Linked DNA regions of Homo sapiens: regions 2, 3 and 4 are each reported to be linked to region 1. The links are microRNA targets in miRTarBase. Many come from high-throughput screens and were not tested one by one. Region 1 holds a microRNA gene; each other region holds the end of a gene's coding sequence.
The links. The annotated mature microRNA hsa-miR-197-3p reads UUCACCACCUUCUCCACCCAGC and lies in region 1 at 2,119-2,140, opposite strand. An mRNA with a match to its seed (bases 2 to 7 or 8) in the 3' UTR can be bound and repressed. Matches are read on the target gene's strand: a 7mer-m8 pairs with bases 2 to 8, a 7mer-A1 pairs with bases 2 to 7 and ends in A, and an 8mer does both.

Region 1 (3,111 bases):
GTCTATTCAGGCCCCAAACATAATTTATCCCATTTATTCCATCTCCAAATAGGATAGCCCTACTTTCCCTCAAATAGTACCAGATTGTTGATTATTTTATTAACTTTTCCTTGGTCTTTCAATCTAGGTATAAATTGGTTATTGACCAAACTATAAGTCTAACTCAGGATCCTTGGTTATTAATGTTCACACAGAACCTGCCTTATAGTACTAGTACAGAAGCAGAGCCAGTGGGACAGGTCTTCTGACAGGTCTTAGGTCAGAACACAAGTCTCTAGCAGACTAAAACATGGTTGTATTTAGTCCTCTTCTTTTGGGATAGCTGGGGGATATCCCAACTTTTAACTGGTTTATCAACAAACTCACACAAGCCACCTTGTACAAACATTATGTAAAGTGTTCATCTTGGAGGATAGAGCAACATTCTATAGCTGTTTTTTTACTGAGTTTGGGATCTGCCTATATTCATCTTATGATGTTTTCAAGCTAAAACTCTTCTGGCAAGTCTACATGAAATGCAACAGGGGCCCTTGAGCACCCATTCACCTATTACCTTAGAACACAGTCAGAATAATTTTCTCAAACCCTTGGTCCAGAATGGGCTCTCCCATGATTAAAGGTAAGAGGACTTCACCTCGATGCTCTTGATAGGCTTCCAGAAAAGGCATTCACCCTTACCCTAGCTCAACTGTTTGTCAGGCCCAACGATTGTTCCCAAACCTTACATGTTAGAGCTGCAGAAAAAGTGCATTTGTACTTTTCCTGCACAATTAGCTTATTTTTATCTCATGGACATTTTGATTGTATTCATGAAAAGTTCTTATATAAAACAGCTATAAGAAAGATTAAAATAAAAATTAAGTCATTATCTTTCTTTTGCCTCATTTTAAATTTACACCGTACTGTTGAATTTTTATTTACTTTAAGCCATCAAGTTTTTTTTTTTTTTGTAACCAGATCAGAAACAAATATTTAACCCTATTTTCTGGCATGCAACCTTAATTCTTAAGACTGCTAAAGTTAGAACAAACTTAAAAATAGTCCAGCCCCATCACTAGCAATTTATAGATCAAAAACTGAAGCCCAGGAAGGAAGAGTATCTTCATCAAGATCACAACGCTAGGCAGTAGCAGAACTAGAACTCCAGAACAGGTCTTCTCAATCCAAAGCCTGTGATGATGTCCAGCTACCAACAGAGCACCATACACTATAAAATCAAAGCCAATTTCTTGTTCTTCTAAGCTCCTCCCATTCCCAACCAAATTCTTGGTCATTTTTTCATTATGCCGTCTCTAAATCGTGGACATTTAACAAAACCACCTCCAAGCTAAGACAAATAGATCTCAAAATAGAATATGAAAACAGCATAAAATCACAAAAATATAACTAAGTTTGCTTGTTTGTTGAAGGTAAAATTTCCTCTTCATATTCTTAGAGGGAGAGACCATAATGTACTTCCCTAGCATAGCATGATTAAAGAGACATTACTAACAGTAAATCAAATGTAAATTACGTTACATTTCACATAAATCTGATAGTTTTCCTTTTTTAGACAAAAATACAATATGATTGACACAAAAGGACAAATACTATGATTCCACTTATATGAGGTATCTAAAATAGTCAAATTCATAGAGACAAAGGAAAATGCTGGTTACCAGGGGCTGAAAGAAGGTGGGGCATGGGGAGTTACTGTTTAACAGGTACAGAGTTTCAGTTCAGGAAGATGAAAACAAGTTCTGGAAATGGATGGTGGTGATGGCTGTGCAACAGTGTGAATGTACTTAATGCCACTGAACTGTACACTTAAGATGGCAAATTTTGTTATATATGCTTTATCACAATTTTAAAAATAGAAAAAATATACTATAATTAGAAATTTGTATTTCTGTGGATAAAAGGAAGAATGGATAAAAGCGGCACAAAAGTTGTCTTAAAAGCAACATAAAAGACACATTAACTTGAAACAGTTCCTACTCTGGTAATAAAATCCACTCACATGTACCTCCAAATAGTCCAAAACAGAGTATTCCTTCCCATCCCCACGGTGAGACATAACAGCATTCAAAACCCACTCTATACTTGGAGATGTGCCGTAGACCAAAGTGTGCCGGCCATGCTGGGTGGAGAAGGTGGTGAAGGGTGAAGAGCTCTTACCTCCCACTGCCCTCTCTACCCGGCACAGCCCCCAGAGCACAGATTCCAGAAGGATTTCGGTGTTGGGCCAGGGACTGCAAGTGTGACAGAGCCTCTGGTGGTCCTGCTAGGTAAAAGCATGAAAACATTTCTGTGAGGTCAGAAGACACTGGAGACTGCAGAAGGGAACTTTTCTGTCTTTTTGCCATGAAAAAGCACTAGTATAAGCAGAAAATAGACAGCTGGATTTAAATGTAAAACAAAGCAAAGACCTTTTCACCCTGCTTCACGAATTTTAGAGCAATTTATAGTTCAACTTCATTTCAGGTCTTCAAAATGAATATGGGCAAAGTAATGCTGTAAAAGACCACCCACTACGTTGAATACCTTTGTTGGTGCTGCCTTAGGATTTTTTTTTTTCTGTGCAGTATAATCCTGAGTATCATAACATTTACAAAGCATTTTCAAATATGTTATTTCTATCTGATGAGAACCACAGAATATCACAGCAGGAAGGAATAATTTAGTCCATCTTTAGATAACAGATGAGTGATTTAAGACTGAAAGAATACACAAGATTCCATAGCTGGTTGGAAGCAGAGACAAGACCAGAACCCAGCATTCCAAACAACTCTCCAACCTCGTAAGATTCTGAGAGGTCTCAGGACCTTTATCCTACATGAGCAAGAATAAACAGAACAGGTGATTTCTTGTGTTTTGTTGTATCTACTGGAAATCTCTCTTACATATAAATAAGCATCTTAGTAAAAATGTCTGGATAACCTAAGGAGAATTTTGGGCGTAGGGAGAGGTAAAAGATAAGAGGAGACAGATAAACCAGGTTGTTCATAATTTAATATTCCTGCTGTCACAGATTTTATAGCTTAGTGAATGCTGGTACACTGAGATACTTCTATCCCAGCAGTGTATTAATATTTATTATTTGATTATTTCTGGTACCTTGTGATTCTCACT
Region 2 (3,111 bases), not on the chromosome of region 1:
GAAACCAGTTTTCTGTCTTACCCATTCCAGGAGCTGACAAGTACTTGTAGCCCTATAATTTCAAAGCCCAAACCCAAAGTGGAACCTCCAAAAGAGGAACAAAAAAATGCAGAGCAGAATGGACCAGTGGATGGACAAGGAGACAACCCAGGCCCCCAGGCTGCTGAGCAGGGTACAGACACAGCTGTGCCTTCGGATTCAGACAAGAAGCTTCCTGAAATGGACATTGATTGATTCCAACACTTGTTTCTATTAAAACAGACTATTATAAAGCTTTAAGTTGTCAACTTTGTTCTAAATATCAACTAGCGCAAGTGAATACTGAAGATTTCTTAGTCAGTTTTTAGGGGATTTTCGGGGAGGGGAAATAGGTAATGTATGGAGCATTTTCACTTCTAAATAGTTAGATACAGAAATTAAGTGCATTGTATCTTTTTCATAATGGTACTATTTAGAAGCCCAGTTAGTCTTACTGAGCTTATGCTTCACTCCTTTATGTTTAACCATGTGTCTACAAGAATAAGTTTGTTTTGGAAAGTTGAGCTATAGCTACAGCTCTAGCTATCCAGCAGACTTTTCATTATGACTTACATGGCAGGAGCTCTAATTATGCTTTAAAAATCTGTTGTGGAGATTGCTTTAAATGCTCCCTGCCTGGTGTGGGGATGGGGTCCCCCTCTTTGTGAGGGCTGGAGCATGGCACGGCATGGATTAACACGGCAGAGGAACAAAGGTGTGCTCTGAGCTTCTTCATATTTCACCTTCACCCTCACCTGTGTTCTCTTCCCTCTCTCCCAATAAAAGGGCTCCCATTATAAATGCCATGTACTTCTCTTGGGAAAATAGACCCCCTTGCCTAGAGTAAGTTGTTAACTGAGGGCTTTAAACCTGGAGGCTCTTCCTGAAAGTATGTTCATGAATACCCCAAGCATCAAGGTCTAAATAATTTTCAGAAGATTAGAATTGGGTAGATATACTGTTGGATATAGCCATGGTAAATTTAACTGAGGAATTAAATCCTTGTTAATTTTGGTGTAAAGATTTGTATCCTGGCCTGTTTATTCAGGTGGGAGATGTTCTGTATAATTTTGAGGTATAGCTTGAACTCCTAGAACAAGAGTTAAAAGTTCTTTTTAGCTCATTCACAATCACTTGTGTGTTAAGTGTTAATATCTGTCATGAACCTGCCAATTTGTACGTGTTAAGCAGCTGACAGATGATGCAAAAAAAACTAAGATACACTGGATTGTACTGGATGAGTCTGAAATTAGTGTTAAAGAAGTGTGGTGCCTGATGTTATAACAACACCTCATTCTTAACTGTGTGGCCAATGTCAGGTATACCAAAGCATTCCTCTGACTGCTTTTTGGGGCAGTGTTGACAGGAGTGAGGCATTTTGGAAACTCCAAGGGAAGCCTGTGTTTGAGGCCAGAGTTGGTACCTGCTTTAAGAAACTGTTACAGGGCTTGTTGGTAATGTTTTGAATCTTTGTAAAAATTGATATTCTGTATAACAGAGTGCCTCTCTGTTACTTTTGGCCTATGTTGTTAGAAATAAGATGCTATCTTGCATAGTTAGAATTAAGCGTTTGTCCATCTCTAGATAACATTGAAAAGTTTGAGTGTTACAGGCTCTAAAGTGCAATGGAGAACAATTGCTTAGGAGGAGGAAGGGGAAAGTATACTTATGTTGGTGTGTAAGCATGCATGGAGGCCTCGAGGCACCACAACAAGGCCAGGTTCTTAGCACATCCTCTGTTCTCTACCTGTCATGCTTCAAGAGTTCCAGCTGGCCTGCTGTGAAGCCAGTAGCTATTTTAAAAGTGCTGGCTGCAGGATTAAGCCAACCCTTTACAACTGGCCCAGACCGTAATGGCCATTTCTTCTTAAAAAAAAAAAAATTTTTTTTTTTTTTTTTTTTTTTTTTTTTTTTTTTTTTGGTGTGTGTGTGTGTGTGTGTGGGGAAGGGTGTGGGTGCTGGGATGGGGGTGAATTTCAAGTTGAAACACGATGATGTGGTCTGCTTGCTCTCTGCTTAGACAGGCTTTAAGACCAATTGGATTTTCATGGAGGCCAGGACAGAGAGTGGTAATTGATGGCTTGTGTACAGACAAGCATTTATCCAGGTTGCGTTATCCAAACTGATTTGTTAAAGCTCCAGGTCACGTTCTTACACTAAGAAAATCATTCAGTAAACATGAGACAAGTTTAGGAAAAACTAATAAAATAAACCTGTCTTAAACTTGAATGGTTTCCTTAATTCCATAATGAAGGCTGCTGGGTGTGTGTGTGGGGGTGTGTGTGTATGTGTGTGTGTCTGTGTGTATGTGTGTGTGGGGTGGGGGCGGGGGGTGTGTTTTCAATAAAAATGTTCTCTAGGAGTAGGAACCCTCTGAGCTAAATTTCACTTAACATCCGTTGAAGACTTCCAGTCTGAAGAGTGACAGCTGAAGCACACTGCCTACTTTGTGAGAAAATGTTGCCTAATTTTTCTGTACTCAAACTCTCCAGTTGAGTCTTGGCCCAGTTCCTTTGGTGTTAGGAATCCTTGTCTTGCTCCTGTGACTGGGCCTTACTTTGAGGGTTTTGTTAGCAGAAGGCGGGGGTTATGGCATAAAGGTAAGTGCTAGGACTTACACCTGGCCAAAGAACAGCGCGGTCCAGAGTGTGCTAGAATAGTTGGCGCCACTGGATGTGTGGTGTGGCTGCGTGGAATGTGTGTTGGTGTATGTATGTGGTGGTGATGGGTGTTTAAAGGGCACTAAGCCAGTGAAAAAGACCTTAACTGGATAAGGCATGGGTCTAGACGAGGAGGGGTCAGGGGTCTTGTTCCCTGGGTCATGCCCCTTGCACAGTCCTAGTCCTCTGGCTGTAGGAGCAGCTTACCTGCCAGGGCCTACCCAGGGCCTATTGTAGCCACGTGTCTGAGAAACGTGTGTCTAGTAGGTTTGGTTTCCTCCTGAGCATGTAAGTGGTTTCTGTAGGGGAATTGTTAGATGTGGTAGAAAGAGCTGAGATAGCTGGGTGTGGTGGTGTGCACCTGTGATTCCAGATACTTGGGGGGCTGAGGCAGGAGGATCACTTGAGCCCAGGTGGTCAAAGCTGCAGTGAA
Region 3 (3,111 bases), not on the chromosome of region 1:
ATTCATTCCAATCAAGCCATTTAGCTACTTGACTATAATGGAGATAATATTTTCAGGGTTCAGAGTTTTTGTTCTGTTTTGGCTGTTGCAGTAGTTTATGGCGTATATGATGTACGTGGTACGTATGTGGTATATAGTTTTCTTCTCTCTCCCAGATTGCACCAGAGCTGCTGAACAATTAAAGAATAATCCGCGACACAAGAGTTACCTAGAACAAGTATCCCTGAGGCAGCTAGAGAAGCTATTCAGTTTTTTACGAGGTTACTTGTCGGGGCAGAGTCTGGCAGAAACAATGGAACAAATTCAACGGGAAACAACCATTGATCCTGAGGAAGACCTGAACAAACTAGATGACAAGGAGCTTGCCAAAAGAAAGAGCATCATGGATGAACTTTTTGAGAAAAATCAGAAGAAGAAGGATGATCCAAATTTTGTTTATGACATTGAGGTTGAATTTCCACAGGACGATCAACTGCAGTCCTGTGGCTGGGACACAGAGTCAGCTGATGAGTTCTGATACCAAACACTCAAAACATGCATTGGGCTAGCAGAATATCCATGTTTATTACCAGACTGGTTCTGGAAGAAGCTGTAAAGAATACTAAATATGTTGGGTTATAGGGGATTGACCATGTTACTTTTCAAAACCAGGACATTTAAAGCATCTACTATGTAGGTGCATGAGGAGTATGGGAAAAACAGAATAAAGGAATCTGCCTTTAAGGAGCTTACAATCATGCCGGGTGCGGTGGCTCACGCCTGTAATCCCAGCACTTTGGGAGGCTGAGGCGGGTGGATCACCTAAGGTCAGGAGTTCGAGACCAGCCTAGCCAACATGGTGAAACCTCGCCTCTACTAAAAATACAAAAATTAGCCAGGCGTGGTGGCGGGTGCCTGTAATCCCGGCTACTCAGGAGGCTGAGGCAGGAGATTCGCTTGAACCTGGGAGGCTGAGGTTGCAGTGAGCCGAGATCGCGCCATTGTACTCCAGCCTGGGCGATGAGCAAAACTCCATCTCAAAAAAAAAAAAAAAAAAAAGCTTACAATCTGACTGGAAGATGTCAAAACCTGTGAAAAGCTAATTAGCAGTATTAAGCAACACAAACATTAGTGCCAAATGCATGATAAAGGCTAAAGAAGGCCAGAGCATATATTACTGTAGAGTAGAATAGTAAGGGAAGACTTTGTCCTTTAGTAAAGAGATAGGAGGTGGCCTGGCCCTTGAAATAGTAGTGTTTAGGTAGATGCTTGTGTAGGATTCCTGATAAGAGCAACTGAAAAGAAGGAGAGGGGAAGTAGTAAAGGGACAAGAAACAATTTTTTTTTTGAGGAACCATAAGCAAATTATAGTTTGACAAGACAAGATTGGGGGACATATATGGTTACCAGGGAATTACCTCTTATGTGTTATATCTTTATATTATTTATCTCTGGAAAAGAGTACCCTGCAAAATTCCCTACAGCTGCAAGCAGATGTCACTTGATGGACAGAGGGGGAATTCTGCCCCTCCGGTATCGGGAAATACATACTAAAGACATTGCGAAACGCTGAACCTCTTCCCATAAATAAAAGGTTTGTTTGTAAAATGGGAAATCCACCCATAATAAATGAACAATAGGCACTGCCAGTTTAGGCCTGTTCATGAATGGATCTGCAAGACAGCATCTTCGTTTAACAACATTATCTGTGATTTGATACATTTATCCTTATTACAATATTGTTTAGTTGGTAGAAATTCTATGTTTTCTACAAGGAAATTGATGTTTATTAAATAAAACTGAAAATAATTACTCAGTGTTTCTACCTGTTCACTTCCACTCTCCTTACCATTAAGCACTTCATTAAAAGGGAGCTCATTCTTGTAGTGATATCACCAGAGTTTTGAAATAGTCAGATCTCATACATACAGTAGCCAAAGGGAGCCAAATAATTTTCTGAATTAGAGATCTTTCCATATCTACATAGTATTCCTTTATTCTTTATTGTATAGATATAGGTAGTTTATTTTTTATTTGAGACAGGGTCTCACTCTGTCACCCAGGCTGGAGTGCAGTGGCATGATCACAGCTCACCAAAGCCTCAACCTCCTGGGCTCAAGTGAGCCTCCCCTCTCAGCCTCCCAAGTAGCTGTGAGTACAGGTGCCCACCACCACACCTGGCTAATTTTTGTATTTTTTGTAGAGACAGGGTTTCACCATGTTGCCTAGGCTTGTCTGGAACTCCTGGGCTCAAGTGATCCACCCACCTCAGCCTACCAAAGTGCTAGGATTACAGATGTGAGCCACTGTGCCTGGCTATAGGTAACTTATTTTAAAATTTGTCCTTGGGTTGCTGGGCGCAGTGGCTCATGCCTGTAATCCCAGCACTTTGAGAGGCTGAGGCGGGCAGATCACGTGAGGTTGGGAGTTCAAGACCAGCCTGACCAACATGAAGAAACCCCGTCTCTACTAAAAATACAAAATTAGCCGGGTGTGGTGGTGCATGCCTGTAATCCCAGCTACTCCGGAGGCTGAGGCAGGAGAATCGCTTGAACCCGGGAGGTGGAGGTTGTGGTGAGCCGAGGTCATGCCATTATTGCACTCCAGCCTGGGCAACAAGAGTGAAACTCTGTCTCAAAAAAAAAAAAAAAAATTTATCCTTGGGTTGTTTTCTCCTTTCATGACTACAAACAGTGCTACAACAAATAACCTTGTACATTCTCTGTTTTGCACATATGCAAGGATATCTATTAGATAAATGCCTAAAGGGGAATTACTAAGTATGTGCATTCTAAGTTTTAATAGATACTAAGTTGTCACCAATAGACGTTCATTCATTCATTATTTGTAGTTAATAAGCACTTACTACATTCTAAGCCTGTACTGTTCTGGAGTTTGGGGTTACAGCAGTATATACAGCAAAGTCCTGGGTTTACAGTTGGAGAGCAGAGACATAAATGCATAGAATAGTGTCATCAGATGGTAAGTGCTCAAAATGGGATGAAAAGGAGAATGATAGAGGGGATGGGAGCCACTGTTTTAGATCACATGATGAGCAAAGGCCTGAAGGAGGCAAGGAAAAATTGGTATGCATTTCAGGATTAGCGGGGAAAGGTAAGTGTATTAGCCCTG
Region 4 (3,111 bases), not on the chromosome of region 1:
GAGTCGGGGCGGGGCGTGCACGTCAGCCGGGGCTAGAAAAGGCGGCGGGGCTGGGCCCAGCGAGGTGACAGCCTCGCTTGGACGCAGAGCCCGGCCCGACGCCGCCATGAGCGCCGCGCTCTTCAGCCTGGACGGCCCGGCGCGCGGCGCGCCCTGGCCTGCGGAGCCTGCGCCCTTCTACGAACCGGGCCGGGCGGGCAAGCCGGGCCGCGGGGCCGAGCCAGGGGCCCTAGGCGAGCCAGGCGCCGCCGCCCCCGCCATGTACGACGACGAGAGCGCCATCGACTTCAGCGCCTACATCGACTCCATGGCCGCCGTGCCCACCCTGGAGCTGTGCCACGACGAGCTCTTCGCCGACCTCTTCAACAGCAATCACAAGGCGGGCGGCGCGGGGCCCCTGGAGCTTCTTCCCGGCGGCCCCGCGCGCCCCTTGGGCCCGGGCCCTGCCGCTCCCCGCCTGCTCAAGCGCGAGCCCGACTGGGGCGACGGCGACGCGCCCGGCTCGCTGTTGCCCGCGCAGGTGGCCGCGTGCGCACAGACCGTGGTGAGCTTGGCGGCCGCAGGGCAGCCCACCCCGCCCACGTCGCCGGAGCCGCCGCGCAGCAGCCCCAGGCAGACCCCCGCGCCCGGCCCCGCCCGGGAGAAGAGCGCCGGCAAGAGGGGCCCGGACCGCGGCAGCCCCGAGTACCGGCAGCGGCGCGAGCGCAACAACATCGCCGTGCGCAAGAGCCGCGACAAGGCCAAGCGGCGCAACCAGGAGATGCAGCAGAAGTTGGTGGAGCTGTCGGCTGAGAACGAGAAGCTGCACCAGCGCGTGGAGCAGCTCACGCGGGACCTGGCCGGCCTCCGGCAGTTCTTCAAGCAGCTGCCCAGCCCGCCCTTCCTGCCGGCCGCCGGGACAGCAGACTGCCGGTAACGCGCGGCCGGGGCGGGAGAGACTCAGCAACGACCCATACCTCAGACCCGACGGCCCGGAGCGGAGCGCGCCCTGCCCTGGCGCAGCCAGAGCCGCCGGGTGCCCGCTGCAGTTTCTTGGGACATAGGAGCGCAAAGAAGCTACAGCCTGGACTTACCACCACTAAACTGCGAGAGAAGCTAAACGTGTTTATTTTCCCTTAAATTATTTTTGTAATGGTAGCTTTTTCTACATCTTACTCCTGTTGATGCAGCTAAGGTACATTTGTAAAAAGAAAAAAAACCAGACTTTTCAGACAAACCCTTTGTATTGTAGATAAGAGGAAAAGACTGAGCATGCTCACTTTTTTATATTAATTTTTACAGTATTTGTAAGAATAAAGCAGCATTTGAAATCGCCCCTGCTTCCTATATTCGCAGTGACTCCCGCCCGCCCGCCGGTGGCGCAGGACCCGGCTCGGGAAGGGTGCGTTCCGGACCCGCAGCCAGCGAGCACCAGGGAGCCCGGGCGCCAGGTGTGTGTGTGGGGGGGGCGGGGGGATGGGGCGCAGGCCCGAGCTACTCAGGAGAGAGGGTCTGTCGCTTTTAAAACGCATTAAAGGCTCTCTCCTGGCCTTATTTAACTTGCCTAAGCTAGGTGGAGCACGGCTGAGCTCAGGTAAGCTAGCAGCTTTCCAGCAGAAGGTGTTCTCCCGAAGAACGCAGACCTGGGGAAGGGTTGACTTTTTGGGGGCCCCTGCTGAGAACAGTTCAAGAGCTCCCTAACTGTAGAGGCTGCTGGAGGGGCGAGGGGCAGAACCCCGGGCTGAATCATCTCCCGCTTTCCCGGGACTTTGCTTTCACTTTCCTCAGTCTTGTGGACAGAGTCAAGTAGATTTTCAAAAGTGCTCCAGAAAGGCCGGAATAGTCATGTAGTGGATGAAAAGGGCAGTCACAAAACTGCTTAAGACCAGCTGTCTTGCCAGTAATTGCAGTGCTTTAAGATTTAATTAAAAAGCCGCCTGCCTTTAACCCAAGAACACTTGGTATTAGGGCACCATGTCTTGGTCACGGCTGCTACGTGTATCTGATGTAGTTAACCATGGCCTGTCATGATTATATTGCTATAAGGAAGGGAACAAAATCTTTATAGTGTCCAAAGATAATTAATTCTTGGTTTAAATCTTTGCCAGCAAAGCAAATATCCGACTGACTGCTCCTTAGTCTGTGATCTTTGCTCTCCGTGCACATTACCCAGCCTAATTAAAACAGGTGTGTGTGGTGGAGCCAGCTATCCCCACCACCATTCAGCAGAGACACGATCACACCAGTTCAGAGAGCTACACTTTATGGGTAACAGTTTCACCTGTGATACAGTTCCCTAGAACATTTTCCCAAAAGTAGTGAACTGCAAAGTGCTTAGGTTTGACATTTATTGTAGCAGAACAGTAATATCACAGTATGGGACAAAGGTTTACACTTTGCAGGGTATTCTTTGGGGGAATGTTAAATACTGTAATAAAAACATGTTCAATCATGGTAAAATGTTCAACTTGTTAAAATTACAAATGAACAAAAAAAATTTTTTTCTCATATATTGCCTAAATACCAAATGAAGAGCTTAAACTTAAGATTCAATGTGAAAACGAGTAAATATGTTCCTAAATTTGCAGAAAATAAAAGATAAACTGTAGAAAAAGGTATTTTGATTTACAGTTCACAAAACTGTATCTGAACATTTCCCCAGAAAAATCTAAGTTTCATTTCAAGATCGTAAACTACGTTCACTGTGTCCATAGTTAACAAATAACTACCCCAAATCACCACCACCACCACCACCCTTGCAGCCACATTGCAAAGTTCACAGATCCTGCGGCAACCGCTAGTGTTCTGCAGAGGCCCCTCCTGCACTCAGAAGCTCGATTTCCTCCAATCCAATGCAGCTGGTCGGGTGGGCGGTTACGGACTGGACAAAACAATTTAACAACCCCACTTCCTTTCCGAGGACACTCTTCACTTCGTAGCTCTGCAGTGATAAAAGGCACGCTGGTTAAAGCAAACAGCCTGGGACGTACTGTTCCCAACAACACGGAAAACCAGAGAGCCAGAGTGGAAGGCCCTTTCCCCAGTCCACGACCTTCCACTCCTCAAATGGCTGAGAACAGTGGTAGGAAGGAGAAACAAATGAAGAGCCACTACACACACACACACACACAC

Region 2: the mRNA of HSPA4 is a reported target of hsa-miR-197-3p. The part of its 3' UTR that is shown has no 7-base or 8-base seed match.
Region 3: miRTarBase lists CEP19 as a target of hsa-miR-197-3p. Seed matches in the 3' UTR shown: 7mer-A1 at 837-843.
Region 4: miRTarBase lists SPIDR as a target of hsa-miR-197-3p. Seed matches in the 3' UTR shown: 7mer-m8 at 2,715-2,721.

Annotation. Positions count from the first base shown.
Region 1 is chr1:109,597,969-109,601,079 of GRCh38, reverse strand. It overlaps MIR197 (microRNA 197), which reads right to left and starts at 2,187; the gene lies at 2,113-2,187. It overlaps GNAI3 (G protein subunit alpha i3), which reads right to left. Exons shown (of 9, transcript NM_006496.4): 9 at 885-3,111.
Region 2 is chr5:133,104,203-133,107,313 of GRCh38, forward strand. It overlaps HSPA4 (heat shock protein family A (Hsp70) member 4), which reads left to right. Exons shown (of 19, transcript NM_002154.4): 19 at 31-2,247. The coding sequence ends at 234. Among named protein-coding and RNA genes, the nearest start is that of HSPA4, 54 kb to the left of the region's middle.
Region 3 is chr3:196,704,957-196,708,067 of GRCh38, reverse strand. CEP19 (centrosomal protein 19) reads left to right here. Exons shown (of 3, transcript NM_032898.5): 3 at 156-1,791. The coding sequence ends at 517. Among named protein-coding and RNA genes, the nearest start is that of CEP19, 5.7 kb to the left of the region's middle.
Region 4 is chr8:47,735,116-47,738,226 of GRCh38, reverse strand. SPIDR (scaffold protein involved in DNA repair) reads right to left here. Exons shown (of 20, transcript NM_001080394.4): 20 at 1,921-2,920. The coding sequence ends at 2,777. CEBPD (CCAAT enhancer binding protein delta) reads left to right here and starts at 63. Exons shown (of 1, transcript NM_005195.4): 1 at 63-1,314. The coding sequence starts at 107. The coding sequence ends at 916. RefSeq lists silencers at 1-24, 515-704 and an enhancer at 101-1,039.